Regions from separate parts of the Homo sapiens genome. Here region 1 is linked to region 2. The links come from fine-mapping of genetic effects on gene expression. Tissue or cell type: whole blood. Region 2 holds a variant in brackets; the other region holds the start of a gene. All regions are shown on one strand. Distances are from middle to middle.

Region 1 (5,382 bases), 20 kb after region 2:
CACAGTCAATATCAAGACACAGTCAATATTAAAGCACAGTCAATATAGTATCAAGACAATATTATATATTTCATGTATTTAATGCCAATAACAATGGTTCAAAATTCAATAGCAGTAGGACACACCAATTAATAGTAACTTTTTATTTAATTAAATCTTGGATCTCTTGAAATCAATATACAAATGAATTATGTAAATATTTTGATTGAAATGTCGGGCACCTAAGAAAACAATGACAACTTTGGGTTCTTCTAAAGGTCCCAACATGACTATTCTGCTACCTTCATATTTAAAATATATATATATTTCTTATTAAAAACTGAAGTAAGTTTTACAACCTGTGATGTACCAGCTCCTTCAAAGAATTCTTTTTTCTTAGGAATTAATTTCATAATCACACCGAAGAATGGCTGTAATGGAAGAGTTAGATAAGAAGTAAAGATAAAGGCAGGTAGACCACAGTTGGCAGTGTAGCATTCCCAGTCAAACCTCTGGATTAGAAGACTGTATATAACTATCACATACTTGCTTCCAAAACATTACTCAGACCGAGAGTATAGCCCATAGCATCTACCACAAGCACAAGAATTGATCCTGACACTTTTGGTTCTCTATCTAGGAGTGGCTTTGAAATACATTTGAGTTCCAATTTACTGATGGCAAATCCTGATATGAAAAATTTGGAAATGAAAAACAATCCTCAGCATGTTACTTGGTGAAAAGAGAGCAGAGGAAAAGGACAGAGGCTAGAGATTGGCTCCTGCCTGCATTCGTGAATTTGTCTAAATCACTTAGCTTCTGAGCCTGGGTAAAATGAGGATGGTAATTACACTTGTCACCAGATAACGTGAATATTGCCCTTCAAACTCCTCAATGAAGCCTGCACTGTGGAACTGCAATGTCCTAGGACCGGGTTGCTCTTAGAACATTTTGTTCTAAGTGTATCCTAACAAGTGTAGCAAAACTGGAAGACACAAAATGTATTTCCTCCCCACAAGAATGAAAGCCTTCCTAACTCCAAATTTAGGCACAGCCTGTAAAAGATGTGACTAGTAAACACAGAAACCATTTGCTTTATAAGGTCTAAATTGTCCTCTTCTCCAGAGTTGTAGAAGCCAAGTCCAACACGGAGATCCCTACTTTTATTCAAGTTCCACCATTAGTCAACTCATGTCCAGGATGTCTTCTTTAATATATAAAATGGGGATACTTTTTTATATTATTATTCAACTTAAGAGACCACTGTGAAATTTCAGTGAGGTAACGTATGTGAAATGTTATACTCCATAAGTTCTTAAACACCTGAGTTTCATACCATGCTCTGAAGCAAGAGGCCAAGTCTGGTTCCTGGGTCCGCTTCCCCAATGGGCTTTTCCAAGCTGTAGGCTGAGTCTAAACTGTTTCCTCCCACATACCCTTCCCTCTGCGACACACTAACAACATCCCTTACTCCATCACTGTCTTCCTTACCCTCTCCTGATGAGCCTTCTTCCCCAGCCACCTTTAAGCTCCCATTAATGATATGTGTAACGAGTGTTCAATAGAGTGTGTGTGTGTATATTTAATGCCATTTATATGTTTTTTCTTGCTAAGTAATGCATCATAATTTTAGAAAATTGGGACTAGTCAGATAAAGCACCCGTTGGTTTAGAATCCCTGACTCAAAGTCAGATGTCCTGAGTTCTAGACTTGGTTTGTCTCCTTGTAAGTGCAAAAGTTTATTCCCAATTCCAGGTTGCTAGTGTAAACTTGAAGTTTGGCCCAAACAAAACCCCTATCAGATTTATTTAGAGTGTTGATGCCAAATGGAATTCTAGAAGCCCACCTTTGCCAGGGGCTGAGCCAGAACCACTATCACTGGGGGTACGGCCTGGGCATTTGTTCTGCGTTTTTTATAAGCCCCTCGGGTGACTGTCAGACAGGCCAACTGTTTCAGAAGCTCTGCTCCAGGCTCTAGATCACACGTTAAGTAGCAAGGATGGGGGTCTGGACCTCCAGTATTGGCATCCTCCGAGAGCTTGTTAGAAAGGATGTCTCCCTCATTATCCCAGGCCTACTGAATCTGAATCTTGCATCTCATCACAATCCGCAGGAGATTCTGTCACACACTGAGGGTTTGAGAAGCACTGCTGTACCTTGGTATCTTTAGATACCTACTGATACCTGGGTGGGCCCCACCCAGACATTGTCCTGTACTTGTTCTGGGATGCGTCCGGGGCAAAGGGTTCTTACAAGCTCCCCAAGTTATTTTAATGCACAGCCACAATAGAAGATCACTGTCCCCCAAATGGCAACCCTTTACGGTTAAGCTGTAACCTGAATTAAATTGGCTTTTGTGGGCTCCCCAGGGACCTTAAGGACCGCTTAAACGGTGCTGTTTAAAGGACAATGGGCTCCTGGGACAAGTTCAACCACAGAGCTTTGGGTTCATAAAATCAGGGCAGGGAAGACTTCCTGCATCCTCCCGCGAGCAAGCCAGGCCCCGCGCCGGTCCTCACCCGTGTGCACCCCCAGCCCGGCCCCGCCCGGCTCGCCCCCTCCCGCCCCGCGGCCCGCCCCTCCTCCCCCGTGACGTGCCGCTGCGGCCAGGATCATGCGCACTCGCGCCCCGCTCCCCGCGCGGCTGCTCCGCCTCGGCGCCTGTCATTCTCCGCGGCGCGGCGGCGAGTGCTGGCTGCGGTACCCTCCCGCTCGCTTGTCCGTCTGCGCGCCCGCGATGTGACCAGCCGACTGGGGGCGGGCTGGCGGCTCTGCCTGCGGCAGCGCATCGGTTTTTCTCCTGGCAGGTCCCTAATTGAGCCGTGATTCCCTTGGAGCCAGAGACACCCACCAGGGGCTCGGAGCGCCGCGCTCCGGGGCTGGAGGCAGCTGCAGCGCTCGGGTCCGCGCGGCCGGGTGCAGTAGCCTCAGTCCCAGCCGCCGCCTCGCTGAGTCGTGTGCCCTGGCGAATGCCCGGCGCCCGGCACAGCTGAGCCAAGGCGACTGGTGCAGAGCGGCGGCGCCTGGTCCTGCACTTGCCGCTGCTGCCGGGCTGTGCCGGGGCGGCGGCGCTGCGCGCCGGAGTTTGCAGAGGCTGCCTCCGAGCGCCGTCCGCCAGGAAGACTCCCTGCCTCCTGAGTCCCAGTAAGTTGACTGTAGTTTCTGAAGTTGGAGGGAGCCGTGGGAAGGAGAGGTTCGTTTTTATCTTCTTGTGGGAAGCCGAGGGTGGCACCTCTTGTTAACAGAGTTCCAGCTCGAGGAGGGAGTGCGGGGTGCCAAGAAGGGGACAAGGCAGCTGGAAGGTCTGGAGTCCAGGGCTGGCTGACCTCAGCATCTCACGAATGTGCCAGTTGGAAATATGCTGGGAGAGGACAGGTACTCCTAGGGCATTTCGACTGCTGCGTGCTAATTATTCATTCCAAGCTCCTTGACTCTGTGTTTACGTTGGGGTGAAGGGGCTGGGCAGGGTCTTGTCACCTCCATCCTAATTCCTCTGGGGAGTGTGGCCAGCACTGCGATGGATCTTTGGGCGAGCCATTTCTTTCAGGCCTGCAGGCTTCCCGCGCATCCCGCTTTACTCTTCCCCTAGGCAGAAGTTGCCAACCTTTTCATAATTGGAGCCTAGTCCTTTAGGGAAAAAACAACTTATATGTCGACCCGGTGTTTTATGCCCTAAGGCAAATAAAACGAGCTCTGGGCGTGTGAATTCATACACTTTAAGAATGTAGGCAAGTCTCAAGAAATAGGATTCAGATAATGACACTTGGATTTCACCCTGATTGTCCTGCACCTCTTATGTAAGCCTCCCGGCTGGATAACTTTATCTCTGCAGTGGCTGCAGCTGTGGCCCTCCATTCCATTTGTTTAAAGTCCAATTGAACAGTATTTACTGAAAATGCTGACATGATATAGCGGCCTGAAGTCTGAAACAGAGTGCACTCTTCAAATTGGAGTGTCTTCTCCTAATAGGGAGCATGGGAGGAACAACCCACTATATTTTTCAAGGCAGCTCCAGGAATTAGACCCATAAATCATGTTTTAAAATAGCATGCATTGTGCAGAGAGCATGCAGAGGACCGCTTTTTGAACACATCCCCTTTGTTTTAGAAAAAGTGGAAATTGTTCATGCCAGACAATTGTTGAGTCTAAAAGTTAAGTGTACTGATGGGCCTAATTATCTTAATAAACAAAGAGCATGATTTATAGGTAGCTGCAGTGCCCTACTTTGAAGGATAGAAATCTTTAACCTTTCTTTCTCAGCTGTTCCCGAGAGATTCCTTTTAAGCAGAGCTATGGATTATCATCATTGATGTTTAATACCTGAGTTGGTTAAACTTGTAAAAGGAATAGTACTTTGAAGTACCATGCAGTACTGCTGTGTGACTGTTACACAGCGAATATTATAAATAAGAGGAATATTTGGAGTATTGGGTATAGATGTCATTAGTTTAACAAAATAGGTCATATTAAGACTTTCCTGCTAAATATATATACACATACATAAATGTTTAATTTGGACTTGAAATTATTGTTTAAACCAAAGCTCAGGGGTATGTTTTAATGTAAGATTTATTTACATAATCTTTGAAGAGAGAAGTGCATTTATTTATGGTATTTCAGCATGCAGAACAAGATGAACTAGTTATAGGCACCTTATTTAAAGTGTAAAGGGTTTTTTTTTAGGAATACTAAGAAAATACACAAAATGTTATTTCAGAAGTTGAAAAGTTAGTCACATCAACACATTGCGGTTTGTGAGAGCATCCAGTGCTTATCTCTAGAAGAGATTACATCCAAGCATGGAATCTCAAACAGATTGACCCATTAAGCCCTATTGCAGCCTGGTTAGGAGGACAGGCTATGGAGCCAGGCTGCCAGCTCTGGTACCATCTGTTTGAATCTAGGCAAGTAACCCAAAGTCTGTGCCTCAGTGTCTTCATCTGTACAATGGGGATGACAGTAGTAGTACCTACCCCACTGAACAGTAGTGAGAATTAAATGAGTTCATAGACATAGAGCTGTTGGGCCAGTATCTGGCATATTAAGCTTGTTCTGGGAAAAATTTTCATTGTTATGAAAGGAAATGCATCTTTGGACTCTATGGACATTGAATTGCTGCTATGGACATTGAATTGCTGCTGATGAATATTAACAGAAGCAGTTCATGTGTATAATAGGAGAGAAGGTATAAACATTTATTGTGCACTGTCTAGCGATACAGACACCAACTGGTATTTAACACTGTCTTGCTCAATTCCCCACCACAGTCCTTTGAGGTAAGTGGCTTCATCTCTACTTTAGAGATGAGAAAATGGGAGCTCAGTGAGATCAAATAGTAGAAATTGGAGCTGGCATTTAACCCACGTCTGTCTGTGTTGAAACTGTGTTCTTTTTGACCCTGCT
Region 2 (5,382 bases):
TAAACATCAGCAGACGTGAGAAGAAACTTCACAGTTTAATCTTCACACGAGAACTAGGAGGGAGAATCCTGGACCACACAGGTACCACACGAGAACTAGGAGGGAGAATCCTGGACCACACAGGTACCACACGAGAACTAGGAGGGAGAATCCTGGACCACACAGGTACCACACGAGAACTAGGAGGGAGAATCCTGGACCACACAGGTACCACACGAGAACTAGGAGGGAGAATCCTGGACCACACAGGTACCACACGAGAACTAGGAGGGAGAATCCTGGACCACACAGGTACCACACGAGAACTAGGAGGGAGAATCCTGGACCACACAGGTACCACACGAGAACTAGGAGGGAGAATCCTGGACCACACAGGTACCACACGAGAACTAGGAGGGAGAATCCTGGACCACACAGGTACCACACGAGAACTAGGAGGGAGAATCCTGGACCACACAGGTACCACACGAGAACTAGGAGGGAGAATCCTGGACCACACAGGTACACGTAAGAAAGAAAGGGAAGAATTACACAGGAAAACACGGATTTGATTCTCTCCTTTAGAGCTGGGCTCCCAAAGAGTTCCATAAAAGGGAAGACATCTTTGCTTCCCTGCCCCTTATCTCTCAAGCCTTCTGGACACTCTGTTTCAAGTTCCAGGAAAGGAAATCTTCGGCCTCTCCTTGAGAAGCAAAGAGAATTCAGTGACAATGTGTACAGAAATGTCTCTGACTTTCCTTAGATGATTCCATCTTTCTTCCTGCAACTCACCTCCTCACAAACAAACGTCCTCTCCTGCATTTGGGTTAATTTATTTTCAGTAAACACTCATCAAATGACCACCACTAAGCACAAGACCTAGCAGGGTCCTAGAAATATAGTTTCTGTCTTCTAGATCTTTGAAGGAAAGACATAAAATAAAGTAAAGTGAAATTCACACCAAGTAGACATCTGAACCACACGGTATTTGAACACAAAAGTGATGCATTCTGAATAGATGGCTCAAGAAAGACACCTGCCTGGATATGGAAAGGAGGGTAGTATTTTGAGAGGCTCAGGAGAGTATGGAGGTATAGGAACAGAGTGAGCAAAAGCTCAGAGGCTTCACACTGCATTCAAACTCCAGATTATGGTGCGAAGTTGTCTGTGGCTGGAAAATAGAAATTAGGGAGAAATACTCTAAAAATAGAGGTGTAAATGAAGCCAAGGTCAAGCTTTCAGAAACCTTCAATGCATGTTGCAGCATTATTTTCTGGCCAAAAAGGAGTTACTGAAGGCTTTTGGATAGAGAAATAACATCCAACATCCTTTTTCTGGAAGGAAAAAGGAAAGATAATGCTGAAAAAGGAAGACAATGCTGGTGTGGTGGCCTCCTTCAGGGGAAACTGCTTGGGGAGCAGACCTGATGAACAGTCTCTCCAGTAGTTACTCCTTTGTGACCACAATGTTATTTACTCCAAAGTCATCCTTCCTGGCCAGCATGAAGCTTCTTCAGTGGTAAAGCTCAGTGTCTTAGGGACTTCCCGTTGGCTTGGCTGAGACTTTCAAAACTGCTGTGATCTGAGACTCTCTGTACGTAATCCTTCCTACTCTTTCTCCTCTTGTAGGTGTCAGATCTGTAGATCAGTCTGGAGCCTCTCTCAGTGGACTGGACTCCTACTCCCTCCTTGCATTCTCTACAGACAATTCCCCAGGTAATCCTCTTGCATGCTCGGCATCGGCTTCCCACGGGGCCCAGACTGACACAGCTGGTAAAGCAGGAAGGATGACAGCCCTGATCTTATTTTGGAGTAATATGCAGGGCAGCCCAGAGTGCTCAGTACCAGCAAGACAGAAGGGGGAAGGACAAGGGAAGGGAAAGGGAAAGGAAAAATTTTAATTTAAAAATAAAAAAGCAGGTTTTGTTTGATCATCTCCAATATTCTTGTGAGAGAAGGGATTGTGCCAATTATTTTGAAAGCACTCAATCATCAATGGATTTTTCATATATGGTGGGGCAGGGTTATGGGCAAATATTGGTGTTTTCCTCATTGCTGAGTCTTCATCTATGGTATTTTTTTCCTTTTGTGTCCCTCTGGGTGTGTTCACATTAATTTATGTGGGATAAACCTAGTCGCTCGTGTCAAGTAATTTTTGTAATGGCAAATTTGAAACATTTATGCCCTTTTTCTTTGCTATCAATAACAACATTAAATAACATTTAATGTGATCAAAATTTTCTTACTAAAAATATTAAAACCATTTACTCATATGCTATGGGGCATAACCCTGAAGAGTAACTAAAGAATAAAGAATATAG[T/C]TTGATTCACAATTTTCTTACTAATATTTCCACACAAGAAATTATACCTTTACAATAGTGTTTAGTTTTTTAAAAGAGCAATAGTTTATTTATGAAAGTAATCCTTCCCTATTATATTGAAAGACTTTAAATGTTTAATAAGAGAATAGTAATGATAAAGCCAGTTCATAATATCCAAGCATTCTCTTGAGGTTTATGACAGGTCACTTTTAGTGTTTCACTTATGTAATATTTATGGTGAACTTCCTATTCTGATTTTCTATGTTCAAATGTATCTCTGTACTAAACATAAACATATCAATGTATCAGAATGAATAAATATTAATTTATAGATAAACTAACTATGGAGTATTTAGCAGTAGTTCTCAGCTACTCTGATTTGGTGTGGACAAAAATTACTTTATATTTAAGAAAAACTGAGCTAGATATGGTGGCTGTTGCCTGTATACCTAGGACTTTGAGAGGCTGAGGCAGGTACTTGAAGTCAGGTGTTCAAGACCAGCCTGGCCAACATGGTGAAACCCCATCTCTACTAAAAATACAAAAATTAGCCAGGCAAGGTGGCACACACCTGTAGTCCTAGCTACTCAGGAGGCTGAGGCATGAGAATTGCTTGAGCCTGGGAGGTGGAAGTTGGAGTGAGCCAAGATTGCGCCACTGCACTCCAGTCTGGGCAACAAAGTGAGACTCTTGTCTCAAAAAATAAAAAAAAAATTTAAAAAAACCCACAAAAACAAACAAAAAAAACTATGTGCAACCATAAACATTATGGCCCATGGGAGCTGTATGACCACCTAAATAAAGATGTTTCAAAATGCATGATATCTTGATAGTAATTATACACGTGTGTGTAAACATGGAAATTTTTTTTAACTAAAAAGGGTTTGTTTGTTCATCCCTTATGATTTGTTCTAAACCATGGTATGTAAACTGCTTTTATAACTTGTTTTCATCTCCACATCCTGTGAAAAGCTTTTGTTTATAAGATTCTTTTTGAAGTCAAGGAAAGCTTTACAGATGAAAGAGATAGCACAATCTTGTCCTTTCATATTATAAGGCAAGTAAGGAGAGTTGTTCATTTGATCAGTAGCTGTCACTCTGAAATAATCTTCCACCAAGTCCAGAATCTTGAAATTATCTGGGAAAGAATGGCCACTACTAACAACCCTTATAAACCATGTAAGAACTTGGGTGGTTGCCTTTGGTGTACTAGAAAGTTCCTGTTCCTCAGCATAGTTTACCAGGCCCTTCAAAATCTAACCCACAAAGAGATAGCTGTAGTAATTTCCTAATATCTATACCCCTCTTCTTCTTAGTTAGAAGTGCCTGGATTTTGTTTGGGAATCCGTGTGCCCACATCCCCGCAATGGTCATAGTCAGACTAAGCCAATTATGCCATTCTGTTCTTTACACTTTCGCCTTCTCTTCCAGCTAGTGGTAACCAGTAAACAGCAACAGAAATCTGTTGTTGGGGCTTCTGGGAAAGCTTTGCCTTCCTGATGCAGAGGCAGATGTCCCGCCACCGCCGTTTCTTCCTTCCTCTTGGCTCGAATGCAGATGTGACACCAGATATAGAGGCAGCTGTTTTGCCACCATGAGAGAAGGGCCAAGAGAACTGCAGAGACACTGGCCCTGACACATTGAGCCACTGAACCAATCCTCAGCCTCCCACATTTAGACCTTTGTCTCAGAAAAAAATAATCCCCTACTTGTTTAAGCCATCATTATCCACTTCTGTCACTTGCAGTAGAAAACATTCTTAACTGGTTGAGAAACAGGCTGAGATCACTTGCTTTCATTTCCTGTACCCCATTCCTTAAACTGCAAAAATCTGTTTATCATTCTACTAATCCACTGGGCTACTTAATGACTGACACAAAAACATTTTCCCTCCAAAATCCTTTTCATCAAAATAATTCAGCTTAAATAAGAAACATCCCCCAACTAATCCCCTCACCCTCACCCATGCTCCTTTAACCGCTGCACTAGCCTGCTGTTTACCAACTAGGGTGAGGGAGGCTTGAGGTACTATCCCCAGTACCCAGCAGAGTACCAGGAACACTAGGCAAATATGTTATCTTTGTTAAATCTTGCATATTCTAAACTATTTGAAGAGATAGCCTTGGTCTCATCTGAGACTTTTCACTGACAGGGTTTCCTTTGGTTCTAGGTGAAGCTGAATTCTCCCTGCACCTGGCATTCCCAGATAAGGTGAAACAAACATACTACAGAGGTCTTCTGAAGGACAATTTTGTAATAACAGTTAAAATGTTAAATATGTATAATGTTTGATCTAGCAGTTCCAATACTAGAAAGTGATACCAGAGACCTATCACAAAAGTGGCCAAAGATATCTATACCTAGCTACTGATTAGAACATTGTTTATAATAGCAAAAATTAAAAACAGGCCTTATGCCCACTAGTAAGAGACAAGTTAAATAAATTATGGTACATCCATTTAAAAATCAAATGCTATGCCACTGTTTAAAAGAACCAAAAAATCTATAAATGGTGACATACAAGGTCAGGGTACATCACTAAGGAAAATAATCCAGTTATAAAAGAGTGTGTTTTATCCCTTTTCTGTAAAAAAAAAAATTATATCTACTGAGCAAACTGAGATAAAGTCTACCTTAAAAGCAGTAGTTGGCCAGGCGCAGTGGCTCATGCCTGTAATCCCAGCACTTTGGGAGGCTGAGGTGGGCAGATCACGAAGTCAGGAGATCGAGACCATCCTGGTTAACATGGTGAAACCCCGTCTCTACTAAAAATACAAAAAATTAGCCAGGCATGGTGGTGGGTGCCTGTAGTCCCAGCTACTCAGGAGGCTGAGGCAGGAGAATGGCGTGAACCCGGGAGGCGGAGCTTGCAGTGAGCAGAGATCACGCCACTGCCCTCCAGCCTGGGCGACAGAGCGAGACTCCATCAAAAAAAAAAAAGGGGGGTGCAGTAGTTAATTCTGAGGTTGGGACTTTTATTCTCTTAAATATCAGTTTTATAGTATATGGATTTATGTAATCAATACATGTGCAATATTTATAATCAGAAACAAATTACTAAAGAAACAGATTTTCCCTGGTAT

What was found.
Region 1: it holds the start of PAG1, and the variant in region 2 is fine-mapped to the expression of PAG1 in whole blood (INTERVAL, PIP above 0.99).

The regions. Positions count from the first base shown.
Region 1 is chr8:81,109,332-81,114,713 of GRCh38, reverse strand. PAG1 (phosphoprotein membrane anchor with glycosphingolipid microdomains 1) reads left to right here and starts at 2,646. Exons shown (of 9, transcript NM_018440.4): 1 at 2,646-3,123. RefSeq lists a silencer at 2,511-2,640 and an enhancer at 3,131-3,200.
Region 2 is chr8:81,129,093-81,134,474 of GRCh38, reverse strand. No RefSeq gene overlaps it. Among named protein-coding and RNA genes, the nearest start is that of PAG1, 20 kb to the right of the region's middle. RefSeq lists an enhancer at 3,979-4,058. The variant T/C (reference allele first, on the strand shown) is at 2,300.